7 separate regions of the Homo sapiens genome follow, and all the other regions are linked to region 2. The links come from fine-mapping of genetic effects on gene expression. A gene starts in region 2. Each other region holds a variant in brackets. All regions are shown on one strand. Distances are from middle to middle. Region 1 overlaps INVS (inversin). Region 2 holds the start of STX17 (syntaxin 17). Region 3 overlaps ERP44 (endoplasmic reticulum protein 44). Region 4 overlaps ERP44 (endoplasmic reticulum protein 44). Region 5 overlaps ERP44 (endoplasmic reticulum protein 44). Region 6 overlaps LOC101928438 (a long non-coding RNA gene). Region 7 holds the start of LOC124902235 (a long non-coding RNA gene).

The links.
Region 1: its variant is fine-mapped to the expression of STX17 in whole blood (TOPMed, PIP 0.96).
Region 3: its variant is fine-mapped to the expression of STX17 in whole blood (INTERVAL, PIP above 0.99).
Region 4: its variant is fine-mapped to the expression of STX17 in whole blood (TOPMed, PIP 0.99).
Region 5: its variant is fine-mapped to the expression of STX17 in monocytes after Pam3CSK4 (Quach 2016, PIP 0.95).
Region 6: its variant is fine-mapped to the expression of STX17 in blood mononuclear cells (TOPMed, PIP 0.90).
Region 7: its variant is fine-mapped to the expression of STX17 in whole blood (TOPMed, PIP above 0.99).

The regions. Positions count from the first base shown.
Region 1 is chr9:100,239,468-100,243,536 of GRCh38, forward strand. INVS (inversin) reads left to right here. Exons shown (of 17, transcript NM_014425.5): 6 at 593-773; 7 at 3,103-3,212. Among named protein-coding and RNA genes, the nearest start is that of TEX10, 110 kb to the right of the region's middle. The variant T/G (reference allele first, on the strand shown) is at 1,684.
Region 2 is chr9:99,904,316-99,908,384 of GRCh38, forward strand. STX17 (syntaxin 17) reads left to right here and starts at 2,339. Exons shown (of 8, transcript NM_017919.3): 1 at 2,339-2,391. It overlaps STX17-DT (STX17 divergent transcript), which reads right to left and starts at 2,286. Exons shown (of 3, transcript NR_038853.1): 1 at 2,239-2,286. RefSeq lists a silencer at 2,078-2,477 and an enhancer at 2,638-2,877.
Region 3 is chr9:100,001,785-100,005,853 of GRCh38, forward strand. The region is part of intron 10 of ERP44 (endoplasmic reticulum protein 44); the gene reads right to left. Among named protein-coding and RNA genes, the nearest start is that of ERP44, 95 kb to the right of the region's middle. The variant C/G (reference allele first, on the strand shown) is at 1,716.
Region 4 is chr9:99,985,895-99,989,963 of GRCh38, forward strand. All of the region lies in intron 10 of ERP44 (endoplasmic reticulum protein 44), which reads right to left. Among named protein-coding and RNA genes, the nearest start is that of STX17, 81 kb to the left of the region's middle. The variant C/T (reference allele first, on the strand shown) is at 1,962.
Region 5 is chr9:99,980,622-99,984,684 of GRCh38, forward strand. ERP44 (endoplasmic reticulum protein 44) reads right to left here. Exons shown (of 12, transcript NM_015051.3): 12 at 1-2,092. The coding sequence ends at 1,991. Among named protein-coding and RNA genes, the nearest start is that of STX17, 76 kb to the left of the region's middle. The variant G/GTTT (reference allele first, on the strand shown) is at 1,795.
Region 6 is chr9:99,643,040-99,647,108 of GRCh38, forward strand. The region is part of intron 3 of LOC101928438 (a long non-coding RNA gene); the gene reads right to left. Among named protein-coding and RNA genes, the nearest start is that of NR4A3, 180 kb to the right of the region's middle. The variant T/C (reference allele first, on the strand shown) is at 1,728.
Region 7 is chr9:100,283,302-100,287,370 of GRCh38, forward strand. INVS (inversin) reads left to right here. Exons shown (of 17, transcript NM_014425.5): 13 at 1,019-1,302. It overlaps LOC124902235 (a long non-coding RNA gene), which reads right to left and starts at 1,020. Exons shown (of 2, transcript XR_007061700.1): 1 at 1-1,020. RefSeq lists enhancers at 635-1,135, 1,136-1,636. The variant C/A (reference allele first, on the strand shown) is at 2,166.

The sequences.
Region 1 (4,069 bases), 340 kb after region 2:
GAATGATAACAGAAACAAAAGCATATCAGGCAAAATGTTGACACCTTTTTAATCTAGATAATCAGTATGTAATGGTTATATTATTTTCTGTACTTTTTATAATTAAATATGAAAATAATTTTTTAAAGATTTAGACTTTGTACCTTTTCCATGATTTATCACTTGTGCTGAGAGATAATGTAGAGGTCTTATTTCGAAAATTCCTCAGTTAATTCCTGTGCCAGGCTGGGCACAGTGACTCACACCATAATCCCAGCATTTTGGGAGGCTGAGGTAGGAGAATTGCTTGAGCCTAGGAATTCAAGACCAGCCTGAGAAACATGGCAATACCCCATCTCTACAAAAAACACAAAAATTAGCCAGGTGTGGTGGGATGTGCCTGTAGTCCCAGCTACTTGGGAAGCTGAGGCAGGATTGCTTGAGCCCAGGAGTTTGAGGCTGCAGTGAGCTGTGATCATGCCACTGTACTCCAACCTGGGTGACAGAACAAGACCCTGTCTCTAAAAAAGAAAGAAAGAAAAAAATACTTACACCAAATGTAATTTATTGAGGATTCCATGTATGTCTGAAGTCTCTGGTTCCTTCAAATCAGGATGCTGCTCCAACAGAGTCTTTACTGAACTGGCAAGACTACGAGGGTCGAACTCCTCTTCACTTTGCAGTTGCTGATGGGAATGTGACCGTGGTTGATGTCTTGACCTCATATGAAAGCTGCAATATAACGTCTTATGATAACTTATTTCGAACCCCACTGCACTGGGCAGCTTTATTAGGTACGTGACTCAAAGGATCAACAGTAAAAGGAACTTCATGAGTATAGGAATATTTCTGTGCCTTCCCTTCCACTGTTTACTCCCAACTCCTAGTTAATTATTTTGATTTCTAACTGATATGTTGCATTGTTTTATAAACTAAATTATAGTAATATAAATTTATTTTATGTTAAATATTAGTTTTAATTTCAACATCATATCTTCACTTTAAATTTTTGTTATAAAAGTAATTCACATTTAGTGACAACATGTGAATGTAACATAAACCTCTTTTCACATTCAGCGCCTATATTTTTGGGGAGGAGGGCTTTAATTTTATGTTTATGCTAATACTATGATATTTGAGTTTTTTTCTTTATATTTTCCTGAAATGCCTTTTACTTAACCTTTTTGAAGATCACTTTTATAGATGAGAGAGTGTATATATGTGTATGTTTTATGTGTATGTTGGGGTTTTTTGTGTGTGGAGTCAATCTGAGAGTCTTTCTCTTTCAATGAAGGAGTTTTACCCATTAATAGTCATTGTTATAAGATAAATAATCAGGTCTTTTTTTTTCCTGCTATCTTTCTATTCTTAGTGTTTTCAGCTTAACGTTTTGTTTTGTTTTGTTTCCTGTTTCCTTTGCTTTCTGCTCTTTGGTATATGGATTAGATTTGATGTTGTTATTTGATTTTGAATTGCCTAATGTTTTAGGAGGGTTTAGGAGTGGCTACTTTTAAATTTATCAAAAACTTTTTAAAGCCTGAATCAGAGTCAAGAGCAAAAATGCATCTATTGATTCCCACCTATTTAAGACAAAAAATTTAGCACAGATACTCATCACTCTTTTAGTACTTGTTAATGTAATCTGAGATTTCCCCCTAATTATTATAATCTTGATCTTAGTTTTTAAATTACACATTATCTTTT[T/G]TTTAAATGATGTTTATATGTGCACTCACTTTTATCGCCAGATTTAGAATTATTATTCAGATTTCATCTTACATCCCTTTTTATTTTTCTTCTGGATTCTGGGCTTACTTGGCAAATTTGTCTCCATGTAACTAAATTGACTTTTTGTTCTATAAGTTTTGCTTTCTTTCTGCCTCCTATATAGATTGTATTTTGGGTTCTATTTTTATTTCCTTGTCTTACCTATATTTCTTTTTATCTCATTTCATTTCCTTTTAACTTCCTTCCATTACTTTTTCATTTCACTCTGTTTTCTTCTTAGAATACCCTGTTTCTGTTTCATAGAAGCCATCTCTTTTTGCACTAAGTCGAGGATACCAGTTGCCTGAAATTTTCCTCTGGATCCTTCTCTAGATCATTTTCAGAGGTATGCTGCTTATCTTCCTGACAGTGTTTCTTTTTCACTTTCCTATAGTATGTTTTTTTGTAGTCCTTACTGAATTTTTCCCTTTATTTCTCAAACAAAATGATATGTGTTTAGAGTAACTATGTGGCAAAGATTGTCTTTAATCCCACATTTGTGTTATGGAGAACTCCATCTTAGACCACCTCTGGAGAGCAGATAGATGAACACAATTTCCACTCAAATTACTTTTCTCTGCTTGGCTTTTATGCAGTATATCCTTGCTCTGCTAATGGGGCATCTTCTTCATTCTCCAATATCTGAAAGCAATAGAGTGTATGAAATTTCAGGTTTCCTACGTATGCTACTACCAGGTTTATTCATTTTTTAATATTTTCTACAGCTCTTCACTTGTGGAGATCACATCCTCCAGAATGCACTACATTGTCTTCATCGCTGCCTTATCATGCCTGCCCACTTGTTTTCTGAGATTTGAAATCACTGCCTAGATGTTATAAAATATAAATATAATAAAAGATTGTGGAAAGGAGAATATAGGGATGGGAAGCCTCAGAGATAGAAGAGGTTGTGTTATAGTTTGTCCACCTGAATAGAAGAGAACAGTTATGCAGTTCTGTTTGGTTGGGCAACGGAACCTTGAGAGTAGGAGCAGTGAAGGCTAAGAGGGCTTGGCTCTAAAGCACCTTCCCCTCCTTTGCTTTAGGCAGCTTTATAAAGTGAAGCCAGGAAATGCAATGAGGTGATACCTAATATAGTTTTTTCTCAGCCTGGCAATTATACTTAATTCATTCCTACCTGATTGAAGCATTAAGTTTTTAGTAAGTTTTCATTCTGTTCTACCTCATATTAATATGTTAGTGAGAAGTTAGAAGAGGCTGCATTGGGGGCTGCTGTTCAGAAACCGTTGTGAATGCTGTATTATGTTAGTGATTTTTCTTATCTTTTTCATTTAAATAGATTATAAATTAATTAACATCCTTTATAAGTGATAATTACCTTTTTGTGTCTTTTCTCAGGCCATGCACAGATTGTCCATCTCCTTTTAGAAAGAAATAAGTCTGGAACTATCCCATCTGACAGCCAAGGAGCCACACCTTTGCACTATGCTGCTCAGAGTAACTTTGCTGTAAGTAAAACAAGACAATGCTCTTTTTTCTTAGTGAAAATTGTTATTTTTATATAATTGTAGATTCATATGTAGTTGTAGGAAATAATACAACAAGATTGCATGTACCCTTCACCTAGTTCACTCTGTTTTTATTTATTTATTTATTTATTTTTCCAATAAGCTTTTTGCACTCCTACACCTAATTCACTCTAATGATAACATCCAATACAATATCATAAACAGGAAATTGACATTGATACAATCCCTGATCTTATTCAGCTTTGCCCAGATTTACTTAGACTCATTTGTCTGTTTTTATGTAGCAATTATCTTTTAACAATGGTTCATGCTGTTCACTCTGTGATGCAAGTGATAGCCTGAGGTTTTTTTAAGTTGTTAGTCACATCTGAAGTTTTATACAGATTTTATTTTAATGTTAAGCATAACATTTTACTTTACTGTAAGAATACTTCATCTTTATATTACTTTTATAGCACTAAGAACATCTTAGTGTTCAGCCACGTGTAATTGTCCTTAAAGCAGTGTGGCAAGGCTTTGGAACTAGAACAATCTCGGCTAGAATCTTGTCTGTGCAGTTTGCTAAACTGTATTACCTTACACAAGTTTCTTAATCTTAGTTTCTTCATATGTAAGATGAGGATAATTATACCTTTTCTTCCAGGATTGTTGTAAAGATTAGAGAAAATTTATGACAAGTGCCTGCTGTATACCTTAGCATAGAGCAGGTACTCAAGAAATAGAATGTGCTCTCATTACTACTAGTGTTGATAATTATGTATATTATACGTCTGAGAATGCAAAAACGAATTATTTCCAAAAATACTGAATAGTATTCATAGTTCTTCCCCTCTACT
Region 2 (4,069 bases):
ATTATTCTCAATTCTTCAAATAGGTCTTGTAATTCCTTATAAACACAAACTTGATTTTTGTCATTTTTGAATGTAATCTTCCTCCCAGTACATTTCAATTTTTTTTTTTTTTTTTTTTTTTGAGACAGGGTGTCAGTCTTTTCTGCAGGCTGGAGTGCAGGCTGGTGGGATCATAGTTCATTCCAGCCTCAAACTCCTGGGCTCAACTGATCCTCCTGTTTCAGCCTCCTGAGTAGCTGGGATTATAGGTACATGCCACCATACCCAGCTACGTTTTTTTTGTTTTTTTTAGAAATGGGGTCTCACTATTTTGCCCAGGTTGGTCTTGAATTTCTAGCCTCAAGCAATCCTCCCTCATTGGCCTCCCAAAGTGCTGAGATTATAGGCATGAGCCATCACGCCCAGTCTTCTTCTCATTACATTTTAAAATTGATGATTGTTGTTTAGGAGAGGTATTTTATAGCCATCTTATTGAATTAGTTTCAGTTTATTCCATGGATTTTCCAAGAAAGCAATCAATCATAACACCCTAAGAATTTTTTTTAATTTTCTTTCCAACATATACACTTAATGTTTTGTTTGGACTTGCTGGGTTCAGTTAGGACTTCAGGAAAATGTCGGCCAGTAGTAGCAGGCCTGCCCCTAACAACTTGATGACCTAGAGTACACAAAAGAGGTCCACACACCATATGTTTGAATATTTAAAGATTATAAATCAAGCTAACCAACAGTTAGATTAAAAGGTTTTGGTCGGGCATGGTGGCTCACACCTGTAATCCCAGTACTTTGGGAGGCCGAGGCGGGCGGATCACGAGGTCAGGAGATCAAGACCATCCTGGCTAACATGGTGAAACTCTGTCTCTATTAAAAATACAAAAAATTAGCCGGGCATGTTGGCACACGCCTGTAGTCCCAGCTACTCAGGAGGCTGACACAGGATAATCGCTTGAATCTGGGAGGTGGAGGTTGCAGTGAGCTGAGATCATGCCACTGCACTCCAGCCTGGGCGAAAGAGCAAGACTCTGTCTAAAAAAAAAAAAAAAAAAAAAATGTTTATCCTACTACTTTGACACACCTAACTTACAGCAAACATACATATAACAACTTAGAAGTCCAGGTCCAAATTTAGAATCTTTGAGTACCACACCTCCTGATTTTGTACCTGAGGAAGCTTTTTCAGAACTTAACACAAATGATCTTTTATTTCAAAAGATCTTATTTCACTGATCCTTGCATAAAAAACATTTTCTCACAGTATTGCCTAATACTTTAATTTTTCTCCTTAGAATCAAAATTTGATAAATACATTCTGGAGCTCATTGTAAAACAAATATCAGTATACATTATGTCCCCAAAGAAAATCCAAATTGCTTGGTAGATTTGGTGCTTTGTTTTAGAAATTGTCTTTCAAGGCTTTTTAAAGGATCTACAGGCCCCTAATCTTCCCTGTTTACCTCCTACTCTACTGGAAGACCCTAAGAACTCAGTTTCCTTAACTGTGGTTTGAACATCCTGATCACTTCTGAGACAATGCCATTAGTGAATACATTCTAAGCACGTCATCTGAATATTCACAGACATCTTTTTAAAAGGGCTGGATCTGGAAGTTAGGCCATGAAGAGAGGAGGACCTGTGACTTGGACAAGGCTTCAAAGCCGGCCACCTGCTTGTTCATGTGGTTGCAGCTGGTCTAACTGGAATAACTTGGGAAGGAAATTAGGACACCCAGTTGGAGTTCCAGCTCTGCCATAAGCTGGCTGAACTGGAGTGAGTCACTTAAAACTCTTTGTTAAACCCCAGAGTCATAATCTATAAAATCGGGATAAAGACGTTTGCCTTAAGCCCTCCACCAGTTTTTGGAGGAAACCACAATTTGCTGAGCTTTAATTTTTACACCTGTTGCAATTAAGATGGCACTCCTGCCCTGTCCACTTCACAGGGCTTTTGGGGACGGGATGGGGAGGCACCACCTTTCTGAGCTTCAGTTTCAAAACAGAGCTAAGAATACATGCCCAACCCGCAAATAAAATTCTAGGAAGAACAGAGGAAAACGGACAGGAAAACTGCGAAATGCAGTCGGCCATACAAGCATGAATTGTCTTAAACACAACAAGCAGACCTAAAGAGCGTTTGTGCGTCTCTCTCCTCTTGGCTCGAGTCACAACCCCATAACGTAAATCAATATCACTTTTGAAAAAGGCTTTCGCTGTTCTCAGCAGCGTCCGCATTTGTACTCACCTGTGCGCCCCCAGCGCCCGGCCTGGGGGCCCTGCGGGGCGGGGGCGGGGGCGGGGGCGGGGCCCAACCCTGCCCACCCCTCGTGATGCCCCGCCCCGTCGCTCCTGCGCCTGCGCCGTGCCCACCGACCGGCCTCGAGCGCCCCGGCGGGAGGTAAGGGGCTCTCTGGAGGCCGCCTTTGGGGGCGTCGGGCCCTCACAGGCTTGGTGGGCCTGGCGCCCGTGTGGCGCGCGCAAGAGGCGCTGGGCGGCAAGTAGGGCATTGGATCCGAAGTGCGAGCGCCATGGTGGCTCCTCCTGTTTTTCAGAAGTGGCGGAGCCTCGCTTGGTTTCGTTTTTGGAAGCTTTATTGGAAGCTGGTATAGGGAGGCCGCAGACGATGCGAGCAGGACGGCCTCCCGGGGTCGCGGGGTGGAAAAGTTTCCGGCGCGCGTCCTGTCTCTGGCGCGCTGTAGGCCCCGGGTCGCCAGGGTCGCTGGCGTCTGGGTCCCGGGACAGACCCGCGCATCCGTTCGCTGGTGGGGGCGTTTGGTGTGTGTGGCCCAGGTGTGCTGTGGGTGACACTGCGAGGAATGACGCGACGCTCGATGGTAGTGAGGCTCGGAGGACTGGGAGCGAGAGGCCGGAAGCCCCTGCTCGCCAAACCCAGAGGTGGTTGGCAGAAGGTCCCACACCTTGGCTCCCTCCTTTTAGCTAACCGAGGTTCAGAGAGGAGACTTTACTTTGACTTTTCTCTCCAAATTCGGTATCTCTTCCATAAGTCAGAAACATTAAGCGGCGGGCCGGAAGAAATCGGGCGCCACTAGTATCCTGAAAAGTGGGAGCTCTGGGCCGATGGAAGGTGTTCGTCACTTTTGGGGGCTGGGTTTCCTGAGAAATGGGGTCTTTCACTTATTAATAACCTCCTAAGTAACTTACTGGGAAACATGAGTATTATGGTACCCATCTCATATTAGTTGTAAGCACTACATGATAAAGTTTGTAAAGCACCTGGCACAGTCCTGGCACCCCTCTCTCCAAGTATTAATGCAGTGAATACGATGGCAGTTCTTTGACTTCTAAATGTTTTTACCTGTCTTACGTGAAACATCCTCTTATACTAAAAAACTTTTTTATTTTGAAATAATTTTAAAATTACAGAAAAGTTTCAAAAGTAATACAGAGTTCCCTATTGCCTCCATTAATAATTTTTTACATACCATAGCGCAATTATCAAAAGCAAGAAGTTAATATTAGTATAATACTATTAACTGAATTACTAACTTGTGATTTTTTTTCCTGTATTAATGTCCTTTTTCTATTCTAGGATCCACTCTAAGACCCGACATTGCAGTTAGTTGTCTTGGGTCCTTGGTCTCCTCCAGTCTGTGACAGTTCCTCTGTCTTTTCCTGTCTTTACACTGATAGTCTTTTTCTGTCTTTATACTCTTTCTGATCTTTACACTTTTGAAGAATGCTGGTCAGTTATTTTGTAGAGTGCCCCTCAAATGGGGTTTGTCCAGTGTTCTCTCATGATTAGATTAAGGTTATACATTTTTGTTAAGAACACAAAAGTGTGTGTGCCCTTCTCAGTTCATCATATGAGCATAGCTGATATATATGACTTATTGCTCGTGAGGTTAATCTTGATCACTTGGTAGAGAGTGTCTGCTGGGATTCTCCAATGTAAAGGTCTTATTTTTCTCCTTATAATTGACATCTTGGGGGGGAGCTTTTAAACCGTACGCATATCCTGTTTCTCCTCAGACTTTCCCTTGCTAAATTTCACATCCATTGGTGGATCTTGCCTTCAGCAATTATTATGACTATGGTGTTCTAATGATGATTTTCTA
Region 3 (4,069 bases), 97 kb after region 2:
TTTGACTGGAGAATTTAAGACATTTACATTCAAATTAATTATTGATGGGTAAAGACTACTGCCATTTTGTTAATTGTTCACTGGTTGTTTTGTAGATCCTTTGTTGCTTTCTTCCTCTCTTCTTGTCTTCCTTTGTGATTAGGTGATTTTCTCTAGTGGTAGGCTTTATTCCTTAATTTTTATCTTTCGTGTATTTACTAAAGTTTTTTGCTTTGTGGTTACCATGAGATTTACGTAAAATATAATTATAATAGGGTTTTTAAAATTTTTATTTTATTTTGTACATTTCTTCACTATGTCCTATGCTCATAACAGGCTATTTTAAGCTGATAAAAACTTTATTCACATAAAAAAAAAAACTACACTTTTACTCTACCCTCCTCACATTTTAAATTTCTGGTGTCATAATTTACATCTTTTTATATTGTGTATCCCTAAAATTATTGTAGCTATTATTATTTTAATAGTTCTGTCTTTTATCCTTCATACCAAAGCTATAAGTGATTTATATACCACCATTACAGAATTAGAGTATTCTGAATTTGACTGTATACTTACTTTCACCAGTGAGTTTTATACTTTCACGTTTTCATGTTAGTACTTACTGTCCTTTTCTTTCAGCCTGAAGAACTCCCTTTTAGCATTCTTTTTAAGACAGGTCTGATGGTAATGAACTCCCTCAGCTTTTGTTCATCTGGGAAAGTCTTTAGCTCTCATTTCTGAAGGACAGCTTTGCCAGGTATTAATATAATATTGCTGGTTGGCAGTTTTCTTCCTTAAAGACTTTGAACATATCATCCCACTCTCTCCTGGTCTATAAGGATTCTGATGAGAAAACTGCTGCTAGCTGTACTGGAACTCCCCTTTATATGTTATTTGCTCTTCTCTTGCTGCTTTCAGAATCTTCTCTTGCTGCTTTCATAATCTTCTCTTGCTGCTTTCATAATCTTCTCTTGCTGCTTTCAGAATCTTCCCTGTGTCCCTGATTTTCAACAGTTTATGTGTTGGCGTAGTCTTTGGACTAAATCTGATTGGAGTTCTTTGACTTTCCTGTACCTAGATACTTATACCTTTCCTCAGATTTGCAAAGCTTTTTTTATTTTAAATAAGCTTTCTACCCCTTTATTTCTCCTTTCTCCTTCATTTACTCCTATAACTTGAATATTTACTCTTTTGGTGCTGTCCCATTAATTCCATAAACTTTCTTCATTCTTTTTTTCTTCTGTATGTTTTCAAATAACCTGTATGTTCAGGTTTAAATTCTTTCTTCTAATTGTTCAATTCTGTTGGTGATGCTATTACATTTTCTTTTCATTCATTGTGTTCTTCAGCTCTAGAATTTGTTTAATTTTTAAGAAATATATAATTTCAATCTCTCTGGTAAACTTCTCATTTTGGTAACTTGCTTTCCTGATTTCATTGAATTGTTTCTCAGTATTTTCTTGAAGTTCATGGATGTTACTTTTTAAAACAATTATTCTGAATTCTTTGTCAGGCAGTTCATACATCTCCATTTCTTTGGGTCAGCTTCTGGGAGATTATTGTGCTCTTTTGGTGATGTTACGTTTATGTCTCCTTGGTTTTTCATTTCTTGTTGCCTTACATTGATGTCTGGGCATTTGAAGATGTAGAGACTTATTCTAGTCTTTGACTGGCTTTGTCTGGGAAAGCCCTTCACTAGTCAGTCAATTCAGGGATTCTAGTCCAGCTGCCTG[C/G]TATGGTCCATAGGTTGGCTTGCTCTTAAGAGTCTTCACACTGGCTGGCCTGGTGCCTGGGTCAGCAGGTGGGTGAGCTTGGTGCCTGGGTCCATGGAGTTAAGCCTGAAACTTGGGTCCACAGGAGTGGACCTGTTGTCTGGTTCTGTGGAATGGGCCTGCATCTAAGAGGGTGGGTCTGAAGCCTGGGTCCACTAGAGCTGACCTGGCACTGGGGTAGGCCTTGAGCCTGAGTCTGCAGGGGCCAGCCAGGCACTGGGATGAGCCTGGTGCCTGGGTCCACTGGGATAGGCTGAGTCTGTGGGAGTGGGCCTGGGTCAAGAGTCCACAGGGGCTGGCCTGGAGCCTGGGTCTGCAGAGATAGTCCTGGAGCTTCCGTCCATGGAGACTGGCCTAGAACCAGGGCCTACTAGGGTGAACTTGGACTCTCTGTCTACTGGAGCAAACCTAGATCTTGGGTCCTTGGAACCTGCAGCTGACCTAGTGCTGGGGCAGGTGTGGAATCACGATCTATGGCAGCTTGTCTGGAGTGTAGGATCATGGTTGCTGGCCTGGTATCTGAAGCCACTGAGGCTGGCTGAAAGCCTAGAGCTTAGGAGTCTGGCTAGAGCCTGGGTCCACTTGTGTTGGCCTGGAGGCTGAGTGTGCAGGTGCTGGCCTGGGGGTCAGGTCTGCAAAGTCTAGCCTGGGTCCTGGGGCTTTAGGGGCCAGTCTGAAACCTGGATCCACAAGTGTAGTCCTAGAACTTGGGTCCATGGAGGCTGGTCCATCACTGGAGTCTACTAGGATAAGCCTGAACCCTGGGTCTGTGAGTGCTAGCCTCATGATCAGGGCTGTGGGCAGCTGGTCTGGAGCCTGAAGCCACTGGGTTTGGCCTGGTGCTGGAATAGGTCCAGAGACTGAGTCTGCTGGGCAGGCCTCGGGCCTGCAGCTTTGGAATCCAGCCTGGGGCTTGGAGATATTGCCTGGCACCAGGATGGGACTAAATGCTCAGTTCATGGGTACCAGCCTGGAGTCTGGGGCCACAGAAGCCTTTCTGGCACTGGGTTTTACCAGGACAAGCCAAGTGTTTGGGTCTGAGGAAAAGTTCAGTGCTAACTTCCTTCTCCTTTCCCCACATGAAGGGTATCTCTCTCCATACTGTGCTGCCTGGGGTTGGGGGAGGGGTGGTGCAAGTAGCATAAAACTGTCCTTTTTAGCCTCTTCAATGCATCATTTCTTTACTACTCTCAGGTACTACTATCTCTGACCTGGTTTCCTTAGCTCTTGTGAAGGTATTTTTCTGCATGGATGTATGTTCAACTTGATGTTTCTGTGTGGAGACGAACATGGAAAGTCCTTTTCTGTCATCTTGCTGATGTCCATTGAGATTAACTTTCATAATCAACTCTTGACTAGATTACTGAACAGTCTCCTAGATTTTATTTTGACCCCCTCTAATCTATTTTCCAAATTGCAGCCAGAGTAATCTTTAAAAAACAATCTGATTATGTCATTCCCTGATTAAAACCTTTCATTGGCTCTTCATGGTTTTCAGGATAAAGTCAAAATTCCTTAACACAGCATGTAAGGACTTTCATGTGTTAGTTCTCTTGACCTCATCCCTCAGCATTCACCTTTCCATTTATATTCACCAACAGCCCTTGAACTTGTTCTTGCCAAGGTCACCTTTCTCTAAGCCCCATCTCCTTCTCACCTCGGGATAAACTTCTACAAAACTTTATACCTACCTTCGGCATCAATATCGCCAGAAATCCTGGATCAGGTACTACTCTGTTGATCTCTGTCAGAGCACTTATCCCTTAGTAAAACACAATTGCCTGTTAACCTGGTTGTCCCTTTCCTCTACTTGGTTATGAATTCTTTGAGGGCAGGGACCCAGTCTCAGTAAAAACCCTTGGTTCTTAGCACAATGTCTGTCATACAGAAGAGATAGCTAAATATTTAATGAATTGATAGCTTGAATGGTATCTTTCTGAGCATAGATAAAGTAAGAACAACTAAGATTTCTCACTACTTTATGGTTTATAACATAATCATTATTTCTCATTAGTTTTTATAACAATCCCATTAGGTAGGTGGTATCATTAACCATTTTTTATATACGAAGAAACAAGAACAGAGGAGGTAAGTGACTTTCCCAAGGCTGGACTCAAATCTAGGCTTCCTAGGTAATTTTAGGATTGGGAATCTTCTACCAAACAACCACATCTCCACTGAAATATTTAGAACTCAGTGGGGTAATTCATTCTGCCATAGGACTACAAATCATCCTCTGTGTAATTTAATCTTTTGAGATAAAAATGGCATTTAAATGAATTTTCAAAATAAAATGTCTAACTTGAATACCTGTA
Region 4 (4,069 bases), 82 kb after region 2:
CCCTTGCGGCATTCTCTTTACGAAAAAGCTTATTCTGATGGCTTCAGGATATTCTGAGGATAATGATATATAAACTGACACAACTTCACTTTCTATGGACACTATTCTCTTAATTACCAATCATGTATGAGCAAATCTGCAGCACAGAAACAATGCACTGTAGCAGACACCACCATACTGAGCTAAACAAATTTATGTACCAGGCTTTCTTCTTTGTAATATTTCCTTGAGTTATATACAATAAAGTAGGATTACTGGGTTAACAAATAAGAGCTTTTGACCAAGTGTGAGCAAATTATACCTATAAAACATCAGTTGGTTTTTACTATCTGTCTACCTGTTTGTTCTTTAAAGTCTTGCCAAGCATGTCTTTTTTAAATTAAAATTGGTTTTGCTAATTTGATAAGTAAAAGATACCTGCATTTTAATTTACATTTCTTCACAAATTAAGCATTTTTTTCATTGCTTGTCTGAATTTATATCTCTGCTCATACGAATTGTCTGCCTTCTGAGATCTTGGTGCTTTAAAAAATTAATTATATATTTTAAATAGAAACACTTTTTCATTCTGTTACAAGAATTAAAATGCAGGTCCATATACACTTTAATTCCTTGGGTAGAATTGATTGACTTTTAAAATCATTATTTTTTTGGTAGCAAACAATAGCTGGCTTGTAGTTAATATTACCAGTTTCTTTTACTTTTTATCCTCTCTTGAGGTCCCGGAAGTGCTGTTTCTTCCCTTCAATAACTCCCACTGAGATGTACCAACCAATAACTTCATTGTATACCCATTTTGGCTCCCCACTAGCTCCAATGCAACAGAGACCAGCAGGTGCCAAATGCACAGTTTACAAATACAAATGACTGTCAGGTAGCTGTATTGACAGAATGCCTCTGAAAGGTTCTCTGGTGCTGAAGTAATTGCACATGCACCAGAGATAAACATTGAGAGGAGATCAATTTAAATTTAATCTGACATCATCTACTGTCACCCACAGCAAGTGCTAAAATATATCCATTCAATCCATAGCATTGCAAATGGGGTCTATAATGTTTAAGATAAAGCCTCTGCTAGTTTGTTTTATGAGGGCCAAAGATTATCACAACTAATACAGTATGAACTGCTTCTGCTAGTCAAGAAATAATTTATGATTAAATCTTAAATGTGAGAAATTCATGAAAACACTCAAAACACATTTTTCCAAGCTGATTTTTTTCCACTGTCAACAGATGAAAGAATGTGTGCAAAAGGAAAAGACGAGAGATAGGATGAATCTGAACTGATGCAGTAGAAAAATAGATTATAAAAGAGCTCTTATCTAGCTTGTGGCCAGAAACTATCCATCATTATTAAGAAGTAACATTCAGTGAATCAACACTAAATTGTCAAGAAAATAGACTACGTGGTAATCTCCTAAACAGGAAAATAAATGGGCCCTTGCCATAATAAATAAAATTATATATATCACGCTTTAGGGCAAAATTGTTCTAATTAGAACACCTAAGTGTTTCCCATCCTCCAGTTACTTTTTTGTTTATTTACAATTCTTTATTTTTAGGTGACACAAAATTTTGACATAGTGAAATGCACAAATGTTAAGTGTATGAACAAACTTTGACAAATGAATACAAGGTAATACGTATTTTTATTTCTTAAAATTTACATACAGCAGAATTCACTTTTTTAGGCTTAAGTTTTATGAGTTTTAACATGTGCATAGCATTTTGCTACCAGCTTCTCAAATCAGGTACAGAACAATTCCAACACCCTTTTTAAGTCAGACTCTTCCATTTCCCATAACCCCTGGCAACTGTTGACCTTCTATGTTGTCATTTCTAGAAAATCATACAACATGTAATTATAAGAATGGCTTTTTTTTTTCACTTGGCATTATTGCATTTGGGATTCAGCCATTTTTGTATGTATAAAAAGATCTGTTCCTGTATCCATTGCTGAA[C/T]AGTATTTCCCATTGAGTAGATACACAATTAGTTTATCCATTCAAGGACATTCAAGTTCTTTCCAGATTTTGGTGATTATGAACAATACTGCTACAAACATTTGTGCACAAGTTTTTGTGAACTTTGTCTAGAATAAATGCCAGGTTATATGGTAGGTATATGTCTTACTTTTGAAGAAACTGCCAAACTGTTTTCTAGAGTGACTGTATCATGTTGTAATCCACCAGCAATGTATGAAACTTCCAGTTGTTCCACATCCTCATGAATACCTTGTATTATCAGTATTTTAATTTAGGCATTCTAAAAAATATATACTAATGATGTTGAGCACCCTTCACATGTGTTTATCTGCCATCCCTATATCTTCTTTACATTCTATCAGTATCTTTCACAGAACAAAAGTTTTTAATTTGATGAAGACCAATTTATAAATGATTTCCTTTTATGGATAGTGCTTTTGATACTCTAAGAACTCTCTGTGAAACCCCAGGTCATAAAGAGTTTCTCCTATGTTCGCTTCTAAGAGTTTTCTAGTTTTATCTTACATATAGGTACATGATAAATTCTAAGTTAATTTTTCATAGAAGGAAATTCTTTTTTGGTATGAGGACATTCAGTTAGTCTAGCACCATCTCTTGAAAAGACTATTCTTTCTCCACTGAATTGCCTTAGCACCTTTAAAAAAATCTATTACTGGGATTACCCTTCCAAGATGGCCGAATAGGAAGAGCTCCAATCTGCAGCTCCCAGTGTGATCAACGCAGAAGACGGGTGATTTCTGCATTTCAAACTGAGGTACCTGGTTCATCTCACTGGGACTGGTTGGACAGTGGATGCAGCCCATGGAGGGCGAGCCGAAGCAGGGTGGGGCATTGCCTCACCCAGGAAGCACAAGGGATTGGGGGATTTACCTTTCCTAGCCAAGGGAAGCCATGACAGACTGTACCGGAAAAAACAGGACATTCCCACCCAAATACTGCGCTTTTCCAATGATCTTAGCAAACGGCACACCAGGAGATTATATCCCACACCTGGCTCAGTGGCTCCCACGCCCACAGAGCCTTGCTCACTGCTAGCTAGCGCAGCAGTCCGAGATGGAACTGCGAGGTGGCAGCCTGGCTGGAGGAGGGGTGCCTGCCATTGCTGAGGCTTGACTAGGTAAACAAAGCGGCCAGGAATCTCGAACTGGGTGGAGCCCACCGCAGCTCAACAAGGCCTGCTGGCCTCTGTAGACACCACCTCTGGGGGCAGGGCATAGCTGAATAAAAGGCAGCAGAAACTTCTGCAGACTTAAACGTCCTTGTCTGACAGCTCTGAAGAGAGCAGTGGTTCTCCCAGCATGTTTGAGCTCTGTGAACAGGCAGACTGCCTCCTCAAGTGGGTCCCTGACCCCCGTGTAGCCTAACTGGGAGACACCTCCCAGTAGGAGCCGACTGACACCTCATACAGCTGGGTGCCCCTCTGAGACGAAGCTTCCAGAGAAAGGATTAGGCAGCAATAATTGCCCTCCTGCAATATTTGCTGTTGTGATACCCAGGCAAACAGGGTCTGGAGTGGACCTCCAGCAAACTCCAACAGACTTGCAGGTGAGGGACCTGACTGTTAGTAGGAAAACTAACAAACAGAAAGGAATAGCACCAACATCAACAAAAAGGACATTCACACAAAAACCCCATCTGTAGGTCACCATCATCAAAGGCCAAAAGTAGATAAAACCACAAAGATGGGGAGAAACCAGAGCAGAAAAGCTGAAAATTCTGAAAACCAAAGCACCTCTTCTCCTCCAAAGGATCACAGCTCCTCGCCAGCAATGGAACAAAGCAGGAAAGTTGACAGAAGTAGGCTTCAGAAGGTCGGTAATAACAAACTTCTCCAAGTTAAAGGAGGATGTTCGAACCCATCACAAGGAAGCCGAAAACCTTGAAAAAAGATGAAAGGCTAACTAGAATAAACAGTGTAGAGAAGACTTTAAATGACCGGATGGAGCTGAAAACCATGGCACGAGAACTATGTGACACATGCACAAGCTACAGTAGCCGATTCGATCCAGTGGAAGAAAGGGTATCAGTGATTGAAGATCAAATGAATGAAATAAAGTGTGAAGGTT
Region 5 (4,063 bases), 76 kb after region 2:
TTCATTAAATAAACGCCTGATGGTGACTACTAAGTGTCCAGAAATTCTAGGCACTAGTGATACAGACATTAAATTTAGTTTCCTTGTCCTCAGTGACTTCACAGTCCAGAGAAGACAATGATAGTGGCAGGGCTAGAGCCTAAGCCCAATATGCATGAATGCTAAGTAATACTTCCTCAAATCAACTCCCTTTTTAACAGCCACTTTATCATCTTAGAGCATACTGAACACGTACTCCTTGAGGCCTTTTTCATAATAACTACTCTCAAGCCAGCTCTCTGCAACCTAACCCTTGAATTGTATCTTTTGTTGATTATTTTTTCAAACCCAGTTACAGGATTACTATATTATTCCAGTTGATTGCATGTGCTGCTCTTGGTCCTGTGTGCTACCTTGTTGAATGTGAATTTCCATGCTGACCCTCACAGATCTGGTCCATAATCTAACCTGAAGACCATAACTCTAACTTCATTTAACTTATTGGTTAAAAGCAATGAGGATAACAGAACTAAGGCCCAACCTCTAGAAAGCTCCATCCTACTTTCTTATTCACAATTTGATACAATACATTAAATATACCCCTTATCACCTTATTAACATTTATTATTTTGAATAAAACTATGGAAACTTTGGATAAATCATGCATAACGAGGAATTATAAGCTGGTTTTTAAAAATAACAATCATTAAATATCCATTATAAATATTAATTTTATTTTAAAAGAATTGGAAGATGTTACATATATTACATACTACATATAATGGCACATGTCAGCCTTTTAAGCTTAAAAATAATCTTTTCCCAAACTGGGATTGATTTATACCCAAGTATAAAATGACCCTTGGCCTATAGCACCAACCCAGGCCCAGAGGAAAAGCCAGTTTTGAACCTGTCTGTCCTCTGGCACTGGGCTTCCTGATATGACACTGAGGGTCCTCTCCCTCTGGTTTTATTCCCTGGCAGTATTGAGGCCTGGCACAGGGACCCATCTTACTGTATGCTGCAGGCCTGGGGAAATCAGGGAATCTAGAGGGGGTAGGGTCCTCTAACCATTTTATAATGAAAAAAAGTTAAATATGTTCCTTATTCTGTGTTTTTGATTTATACAACTATAACAAGACTCTACAAGACAGAAGGAGCTTAAAATTACTGAAATACAATTTCTCTGCTAGTTCTTCTCTTTGGAAATTGAAGTCTCATAATAGGAGGAGCCTTAAAAGTCATCTAGTTCTGATTGGTAGCCTGTTCCACTGTCACCTCCCTGTCCCAGATTTAGGTATAATTCATTCAAAGTTTTAAATGCCATCCATATGCCACATTTTTAGACAAACACAGAAGCTTAATAATACTTTTCATTTTCTTTTTCTTGTTTCATAAGGACAATTCCTGCCAAATGTTCTGTCTTATGACTCTCCTCCACTTCAAAGTATGTTTAAGTTACACATTAAGAATCCAAAAAAATACCACTATGGAATTTTCATAAGCAATATCCAACCAATCAGTAAAACACAGTACACAGTGTGAAAACTTTAATTTATTCCCCTCCCAAGTATCCAGAATGTATATCTCTTTAGCTTTGAGAAATGAGATACTGAAAATACCAACAGAATTGATCATATGAAAGAAAGAAAAGCACATACGACACAGGAAACATCCCTAAGTCCTCCCTACCCTAGTAGTGCAAGTTAATGGTAAGTTTCTGGCAATGTCACCTTTCATTTGATTTATAAAACTTTTACAGGACAGATTTAAAGTGGAGATAGGCCTCTGATTTTTATTTTTAAATCCTAGCAG[G/GTTT]TTTTTTTTTTTTAAGAGGCTACTATATTAAATGACAATGCATTTTGAGTCGGGGAGAAAAAAATTAAAAACCCAAAATTTCTTTCTGTTTATTCAAAATAAAAATACACATAGAATTATGAAAATATAGGTTTACTATTTCCACCACGTAGGTTGATGCTGCTGTTGAAAGGCTTACAAACTGTTTTTCAAGTTTTTAAAGCTCATCTCGATCCCTCAATAGAGTATACCTATATTCACTGGGTGCTAGTTTCTGGAAGGAGCTCTCAGGTGGACTGCTTGCTACATCTTGGGCTTGCTACAAAAGAAAGAATAAAACATTTTTATACCAATATAGTTTATGGTGCTATAATATTTTAATAAGTGTATTCGATGAATAGTAGTTCCCCTATAATTATTTGCTTATTAATCAATAAAAGCAACTGTGTGCCAAAGCAAGATATTTAAATGTGAAATCTTGCTTTCCTCATTTCAAATGCTCTTATTGAGATTCTCCAGGGCAGGGTTGCCACAGGGCCATTAACTGTGGGCTTGTTTTACATTTGCTGAGGTGTGGTGGAAGGGACCAAAATACCTGACACCTGGGTGCTTTCCTAGACTAGTCGACAGAGACAGCACAACCCTAGGTTGGCCCAAACCCTTCCCTTCTGCACGTGACTGCTAAGAGAATTAATGGCATCCACTCTGTAGATATTATCTTAGTTATCAATTACCAGGATACCAGAAATTATTACAACTTAGTTGAAATAAAGAGGAAAGCAAACACTTCAATGCTGAAAGAAATTAATTTCTGTAGTATTTTACTTGTGTACCAAGAGCAGACAAAAATACACAGTGAAACGAGCTATTTCCAAGAATTTTAAAGAAAAGGCATAATCCCAGCACTTTGGGAGGCCGAGGCGGGTGGATCATGAGGTCAGGAGATCGAGACCATCCTGGCTAACAAGGTGAAACCCCGTCTCTACTAAAAATACAAAAAATTAGCCGGGCGCGGTGGCGGGCGCCTGTAGTCCCAGCTACTCGGGAGGCTGAGGCAGGAGAATGGCGTGAACCCGGGAAGCGGAGCTTGCAGTGAGCCGAGATTGCGCCACTGCAGTCCGCAGTCCGACCTGGGCGACAGAGCGAGACTCCGTCTCAAAAAAAAAAAAAAAAAAAAAAAAGAAAAGGCAGTGCAGTCTATCCTCTATTTCCAAATTGTGACCTCAAGAGCAGGCCTGATTGTTCTCCTCATTTTAATATCCCCTGTAGTTGACATAGGCACACAGTGCATATATTACATACTATATGTAATGGCACATTAATTCTAACAGGAAGCAATGTGTCTACAAACTTATCATTTGACTTTATCATGTTCCTCTTTCCCAATACATTTTTAATTTTTTCAGTGAGATATATGTTTGGATTAAGCTGAAATAAGCTGAAATTAATTATATTACTATAAAACAAACATTTATTTGGTGCCCTCTGTTAGTACACAAAGATGAACAAATGTAAGTTCACTGTCTAATGAGGAAATTGAAACAAATCAGGATAATACAATAACGGTAAATGACATCTTTTCCTAATCTGATAAAATACTATGCAGGCCTTCTTTTCTGAGGAAAATAATCACCTTTGGGTTATAGCCAACAAGTTTGCCTCCTATAGTTGTTAATTATCAAAAATCTGACCTAATTTTTAAAGGAAAAAGCATGTTGTTGGATTCCTATAGGGAATTCTTGCCTCTGAACCTAATCTCACTCTTAAATAAGGTAAAGAAAAACTCAGTTTTTATTTTCCTTTTATAAATAGAGGTTTTATAGGCAAAATAATGGATTTAAGTTCTGAGCATATGAAATAGAGGGTTTTGGTACATATCTTCCCTCTCGGTATCATGGTAATAGGCATGATAGAAATCATAATCTATCAAAATGCAAACTTAGGGCTGTTTAGTACAGTAGGAACATAGAAATTACTTGTAACAGAAGTTACAAGGTGGAAACAGTAAAATTCTCAGGTAAAAAAAAACATAAAAGAACATAAAATTTTGATAAAATAGTTGTCAAGTATTCTAAATCACAAATGGGAAAGCTGCATTAAACTGTAAGGTTTTGAGCATTATGAATAGTGTATTTGTGAAGGCTCTTAGAATGATTTAGCAAGAATAACAAATCATTACTTTCTTTATAGTGTGGTCAATCTTCCAGCCACAGAGGAAGGCTTGGATAGTTATTGGAATCCACTGATTTCTTCACTGATTTATCTGCTTTAGATTCCTATTTCCTATTCC
Region 6 (4,069 bases), 260 kb before region 2:
AACAAAAGATAACAAGTGTTAGCAAGGATAAAATTCTGCAGCTATTATAGAAAACACTGTGGAGTTTCCTCAAAACATTAAAAATGTAATAGAACTGCCATTTGATCCAATAATGCTACTTTCGAATATTTATCAAAAAATTGAAATCATGATGTTGAGAAGATATTTATATTCTCATGTTCATCGCAGTATTATTCACAATAGTCAAGAAGGGAAAACAAACTAAATGCCTATTGACAGATGAATGAATAAAGAAAATGTAGTATATGCACACAATGGAATATTGTTCAGCCTTAAAAAGGAAGAAAATCCTGCCATAAGCAACATCATGGATGAACCTTAAGGATATTATGTTAAGTGAAATAAGCCAGTCATAGAAGGACAAATACTGCATGATGACACTTATTAATACATGCAGTATCTAAATTAGTTAAACTCATAGAAGTAGAAAGTAGAATAGTGATTTCCAGGAGCTGAGGGAGGGGGCAAATGGGAAGTTCCTGTTAAATGGGAATAAGTTTTCAGTTACACAAGATGAATAATTTCTATAGGCATGTACAAATGTATTAATATCTAGAGATCTGTTGTACAACATTGTGCCCATAGCTAATAATATTGTTTTATACACTTAAAATTTAAGAGGGTAGGTCTCATTTTAAGTATTCTTGCCACAATAATATACATATAATTTATTATATACTATTTGTATATGATATTACGTATACTTATGGAGTGTGTGTGGACATAGATACAGACACAGATATAGTCCCATAAGGACAAGAACTTTGGTCACCATTATTCATATCCCCAGCATGTAGAAGAGTGCCTGGTACATGGGAGACAATTTGGAAACATTTTTACATAAGTTTATTCGCTTCTATGAGAAAAAAGACAACCTCAACAAAAATAAGAAAATGAAAAAATAAAATTAAATAAGGATATCAGAAAATTGAACAGGAATATAATTAAAAAATAAAACCAAGATCTGAGTTGCTAAAAACTGATAAACACCAAAAATTTAATCAAGTAAAATACAAAGAAATAAAGGTGAGAAAAAATACATAATCAAAATAGAAACTAAAGTGAGTGACTACACAGTTGTATGAGAATGAATTTCATGTAATGAATAATTTCTATTTATAAAATATGATAAAAACTGAAAAACAAATTAGAGAGAAAATCAAAGAAAGCAGAGGGATTATATACATTTATAGATAAGTTATCTAAAATGATCAGGGAATAATGTCAATATTATATAAACCACTTCGAACATTTTAAAAAATGGTAAAACAATAAGTAAAATATTACCTAGGATCTAAATAACCTGATAACCATACTATTTTGAAAGCTACCGGCCAATTTTATTTATTAATATACATGCCAAAATGTTAAACAAAATGCAAGCAATTCAGATATTTACAAAAAAAACACACACCATGAACAAATGGAATTTGTCACAGGAATTTAAGGAATATTCAACATCAGAAAAATTATCAAAACAATTTATCACATTAATAGTACAAATAATAAAAACCACATTTCAATAGGCACCTAAAGGTTTTCCAAGAAAACACCAGAACTTATTTAAGAGTTTTCAGCAGAAAATATAAAAATAGAAAGATATTTAATTCAACTTCAAAAAAAAGTTATTAAATCCTTACAATGTGGAAGAATACTCAACACAAATGAGTTGTCTACTTAAAATCCTGAACTAACATTCTAAGTAA[T/C]TGAGAAAACACTAGAGGTGTCCCATTAAGAACAGAAACAAAATTTAAATGCCCGTTTTCACTGTTTACTAATTAATACTGCATTTCAGACTTACAAATGCAATGACACTTGAATAATTTTAGATATCAGGGAGGAAAAATAAAATGTCAATTTCAGGCAATATTATTGTATACCTAGAAAAAAATTTTAAATCACCTATAAAATTATCAAAGCTATTAAAAGAGTTCAACAAAGTAATCAGTGATAAGATACTTATATAAATCCATAGTATTTCTCTGTTCCATTTCTATATCATTAAATGTACCAGAAATTAAAATAAAAACAATTTATACCAACAACAAAAATGTAAAATAGAGATGTTTTAAAAGAATGTAAAATTTATGTTAAACTGTGAATAAAAATTCTGGAAAGGAAAGAATAAATATTATAAAGATGAAAATCCTTCATAGGTTAATCTATAAATTAAAGCAATTCAAAAGTGAATCTTAACTATTCCTTATATAACTTGAAAAAATTATTTTTAAATTCATTTGCAGTGGAACTTCTTTTTTAAATTGAATCAAATTAGCAATCCCTGATGCAGTTACTTCCAAAAGCCCAATAAAATTACCAAGAAAGAGAAGCCCAGAATTAAAAACAACTCACAAGACAGACATGTAGACAAGCTGGTTGCCAGAATCCAAAAGGAATTTTCACTATCTACAAGTCCTCTGGAGCTGAATTGAGAGATACAACTGGTGGCTTCCTTCTGCTTAACAACAATAATAAAATTTTTTAGAAGTCCAAACAACAGTTAAAATAAAATATAAGGACACTAGTCTCTCATTCACAATATTATCCCTGGCTCAGAAAACTAAGGTCAGGACCAACCAGATTGTTGAGTAGCCATCATTTTGTTACTATGATATTCCTTTTTTATGACTTTTCTTTCAACCTTCTCTTCTATCTACGGTCATTCAGAGAAGGCACTTCTAGGAAAATATTGTTACAAAGGGGAAGGGTGTTTTACTATAATAAAAAAGCATAATTAGGCCAAGCGCGGTGGCTCACACCTGTAATCCCAGCACTTTGGGAAGCTGAGGCAGGCAGAACATTTGAGGTCAGGAGTTCAAGACCAACCTGGCCAACATGGTGAGGCCCCCGTCTCTACTAAAAATACAAACATTGGCTGGGCGCGGTGGCTCACGCCTGTAATCCCAGCACTTTGGGAGACTGAGGTGGATGGATCACGAGGTCAGGAGATCGAGACCATCCTGGCTAACATGGTGAAGTCCCATCTCTACTAAAAATACAAAAATTAGCTGGGCGTGGTGGCATGAGCCTGTTGTCCCAGCTACTAGGGAGGCTGAGGCAGGAGAATCGCTTGAACCCGGGAGGCAGAGGTTGCAGTGAGCCAAGATCGTGCCACTGCACTCCAGCTGGGCGACAGAGCAAGACTCTGTCTCAAATTAAAAAAAAAAAAATTGCGTAAGTGGCTGGAATGGAAATTCTCCTTCAGAAAAGGATTATAGGCAGGTGGGAAAAAAAAAAAGAAAAAGCCTTGGTAAAGCAAATTCATTTGGAGGAATACAGTCTGTCATTTACTCCATTGGTTCAGAGTACCAGAAAACCAGAAAGAGAAAACAGAAGATAGCACCTCTGGTGAGCAGAATCATAATATATGAATGCTGGAAAAACACTAGAATTGGGCTCAGAATTGAATACTACTAATTGTAGATCTAAGAAGGGATTTGGTATAGAAGACAGAAGAGGGAGAAGCCATGCATTTCAATTTTGTAAGTTCTCTTATAGATAATTCTCTTATTTGAAAATGAGTAAATACAACACACACACAAACATACACAACACAAGCCCTATAAAAAAGAATGCAGAAGAAGTGAGGAAGTTTATTATTCTAAAAATTAAAAGAAGAAGCAATTTTCTGTAGATAATCTTCGCAAGAGACAGAAGCCATTGTTAGAAAATTTTGTGTGATATTTTTGTTCGGGTGCAAAAATTAGATTTCCACACAAGATGATCAGAGAGCCATAAAAACAGGGAAAAAAGGAGACATGACAAAATAGTGGGGAATAAACTTAGATCTTATCAAAACAATTATGAAATTGACATATCCCCGTCCCTCAAATGTTGCCTGGCCCAGTTGGTTTTATGGGTGCATTTTGCCAAAATTTCAAGGAATAGATAATTTCTAACTTACACAGGTTGTTTCAAAAATACAGAAAATGAGATAAAGCTGTCTAAATCATTTTCTAAAACTAATATAATCTAATTTTCACAACTGGATAAGATCAGAACAAAAAATTAAACTGTTGGCCCCACTACCTCTGAAAATATAGATGCA
Region 7 (4,069 bases), 380 kb after region 2:
CTTTAAAAAGATAAATAAATACAAAATATAACATTTCTTCTATCATATATTAGGTCTTTGTTTTCCTGGCTGTCCCCTTCTGGGTAGAAGATTCCTCAGGAGAGGACCTGAAATCTGTGGTTGTCATTTCTGTATCTTCAGTGCCCAGCAGAGAGAGACTCAGAAATTAAGTGTTTTTCCTCCTGTCTTTCCCTTGGGAATCCCTACAAGTTAACAGCAATGGTCAAACAAATCCTGCCCCTAACTCGGCCCCTTTGTCTTGAGTTAGGGGCCTGGGCTACCTTTCTGAGCCACCTCAGACCCACCTGCCTCGCCCAGCTACTCATCTTTAGACGGGCCCCTGCTCCCCAGCCCTTCTCTGTTCTCCTGCTACCCAAGGGTTCCAGCTTTGCCACCAGCTACTTATGTGTGACTTTTTGAAAATCACCCTACCTTCTGGGTCTCATCTGTAAAATGAGTGGATCTGACTCATTAGCTAGAGCTGTCAACGGCAGCATCTGCAACTCACAGGTGTGTTTTAATCACTGGCAAGGTACTTTGCAAGTGACTTTTTATATGATCATTAAGGTTTGATGGGCTTTTTTAAATGAATAGAGCAGATTCAAGGTTATCCCTTTGACTGTCATTCTCGGTAGCATTCTGGTGTGCTTTCTGAAACAGGAGAAAAATGGGTGGAGTTACAGGTAGCTCCAGGGATCACACATAAGCTTGGGGCACATACACCGTTGGGAGTGTGTTATGTTTCACACAGAAAAGTTGCCTGGTTATCTGTCATGTGTCTCAACAGCACAAAGACTGATCTATAAACTTTTCTGCTCCATCATCTTTTGGGCTATAAGGCCTGGTGTAAAAGAGATGGTTTTTATTTTATCTGGAGAAAAGACTGCTCTTGGAAAATGCAAATTTCCAAATATCTCCTGTGATGTAGTAGCTCCTCTTAAAATTTAAACTCACACAGAGACTTGAGGAGGTGATACTCTTTAAATTTTTTCATCTTCTTCTTTGGCTTTGCTTCCAGAAAGCGAGAGGAAGAAAACAAACGAAAAGAGGCAGAACAGCAAAAAGGAAGGCGGAGCCCAGATTCCTGCAGACCCCAGGCCCTTCCCTGTCTGCCTAGCACCCAGGATGTGCCCAGCAGGCAGAGCCGGGCCCCCAGCAAGCAGCCTCCTGCTGGCAACGTGGCCCAAGGCCCTGAGCCAAGAGACAGCAGAGGATCTCCAGGAGGGTCTCTAGGCGGAGCCCTCCAGAAGGAGCAGCATGTTTCCTCAGATTTGCAGGGAACAAACTCCAGAAGGCCAAATGGTAGGTGTATTGCCTTTGTCATCTTCTGCCGGCCCATGGACTGTGGGCTTTTTTGATTGGTGTATTTAGACCAATTACACTTAAGATAATTGTTATATTAGCACCTAGGACCGCCACTTTATGATTTGTGTTCTACTTGTTTCCTCTGGTTCTCAGTTCTTTTTCTTTTTTTTCCCTTCCTGTAGGTTACTTCAGCATTTTTAAAAATTCTATCTTGATTGATTTATGGTTTTTTGTTTTCTTTTCTTTTTTAGAGTGAAGTGTGAAAACCTCACTTCCATTCACTTTGTCCACTTTTACGTTTCATTGCTTAGGTATCGGATGGTGTTATAAATTTTGTTTCAATCATGAAATACAATTTATAAAACTCACAAAGGAAATAACATTTTATGCGCCCGCCTGTATTTCTGCTCTTCTGTTGTTTCTTCTTCCTTCCTGATGCTCTAAGATTCTTGTATCATTTCCTTTCTGTATGAAGAGCTTTCTATGGCCAATCTTTAAGGGTATGTCTGCTAGCAACAAATTCTTTCAGTTTTCCTTTGTCTGAGAATGTTTTTATTTGATTCCTGAAGAATCATTAAGCCAGATATAGAATTCAGGGTTGGCAGTTCTTTTCTTTTAGCACTTGAAAAATATTGTGCCATTTCCTTTTGGCTTCCATGGTTTCAGATGAGAAATCCACTGTCATTCAAATTGGTGTTTCTCAGTAACAGTCCTAGGTAATATGTCATTTCTCTCTGGCTGCTTTCAAGATCTTAAAATTTATCATTAGCTTTCAGAAGTTTAATATGATGTGTCTTGGCATGGCTTTTTGCAGTTTATCCTATTTAGAGTTTACTTGTGTGTCAGGGATCCCCATGATC[C/A]CCATCCCCAAGACTACCACCAGGTTTGGTGAGGTTGGAGGATTTACTAGTTTGACTGAGCATATAGTTGTACTCCCAGTTAGGATTTATTATAACAAAGGGACACAAAGCAAAATGAGCAAAGAGAAAAGGTGTATGGAGCAATGTCCAGAGGAAATTAGGCACGAGCTTCCAACGGCTCTCTCCCAGTGGAGTCACACACAACACGTTTAATTCCTTCTGCAATAAATTGTAACAACCAGTCAGACAATCTTTTGTTGACAAAGAAAGCTCACATGAACCTAGGACTCCAGGATTTTTATCTGGAGTCAGTCACATAGATACCCTCTGCCTAGCATATGCCAAAATTCCAGACTCCCAGAAGGAAAGGTGTGCAGCACGAACCCTATTGTTTGCACGAAGCAATTTAAACACACTGAGCTACTCTTATAAGTTAGAGAACGGTAGGAGCTTTCCCAAAATCTAAGTGCAAATGCCAACACAGTGAAAAAGGCAAATAATGTCTTCGTATTATTATGAAAATAGCCCTGACCTTATGGACTTTCTCAGAAAGGGGCTCTGGAACTTCATGATTACTGAATTCAGGGCTTGGACAGTTCAATCTGTTTCTTTGAACCTTAACTTCCTTAGCTATAAAGTGAGGGTATACTTTCTACACCACAAGGTAGCTATGGATAGAAATAATTCATGTAGTGTACTTGTTATAGCCCATAACTCATCATAGGTTTTCAGTAACTATTATTATTGAGCCACTCATTAATCTAGCCAAGAACAACTACAGAAAAGTATACATAAAATGACTACAGGCCGGGTGCAGTGACTCACACCTATAATCCCAACACTTTGGGAGGCTGGGGCAGGTGGATTACTTGAGGCCAGGAGTTCAAGACCAGCCTGGCCAACTTGGCGAAACTCCATCTCTACTAAAAATATACAAATTAGCCAGGCATCGTGGTGCATGCAACTCAGGAGGCTGAATCACAAGAATTGCTTGAACTTGAGAGGCGGAAGTTGCAGTGAACCGAGATTGCGTCACTGCACTCCAGCCTGGGTGACAGTGAGACTCTGTCTCAAAAAATATATATATCTAAAATGAATATAAACATTTCTGGAATATAATTCCATAATCCACTTTACAGTGTAATCCTTAAGGATTATATACTCATGATGCTTTGGTACATATTCATTCATTTATTCATCCAACCAGCTTTAATTAAGCTCCCATAATGTGACAGCCATGTTGAACTTCCTTGAGTTCTTTCTTAGCTTGGGGCCTTTGCAGATGCCACTCCCTCTACCTTATTTTTTAGATATCAGGGATAATGTTTCTTCTTCTGTTCAACCAATATCTCCCCGCTAAAGGAGGCTATAGTTTCCTGCTATTGCTTCCATACTTCTCCTATACTTCCCTCTTATAAAGATCATCACTTTTTACTGTTATTACTGGTTTACTTGTCATTTTTTCCACCAAACTGCAAGATCTGTAAGAGTAGGGTTGCTTCCATTATCTACTGCTGTATAACAAACCACACAAAAACAAAGTGACTTTGAACAATGACAATTTAATTTTTATGATTCTATTTTGGTTGGGAAGTTTGTTTACGGGCTTCATCTGGTCTCACTCATGTGTCTGCATTCAGGTGGAGAGTCAGTGGAATTCCATGTCTAAGATATAGTCACTTAAATGTCTAGCAATTGATGCTGGCTATCAGATGGGATTCCTTGACTCTGGTTTACGTGGTTTTCATCCTCCAGTAGACTAGACTGGCTTCCTTACATTGTGGTCTCAGGACAGCATTTTCAGAAAGCGAAGATAAAAGCCACAAGACCTCTTGAGAAATAGACTCTAGAATTTGCACACATTATATTGATCAAAGCAAGTTACGAGACCATCCCAGACCAAA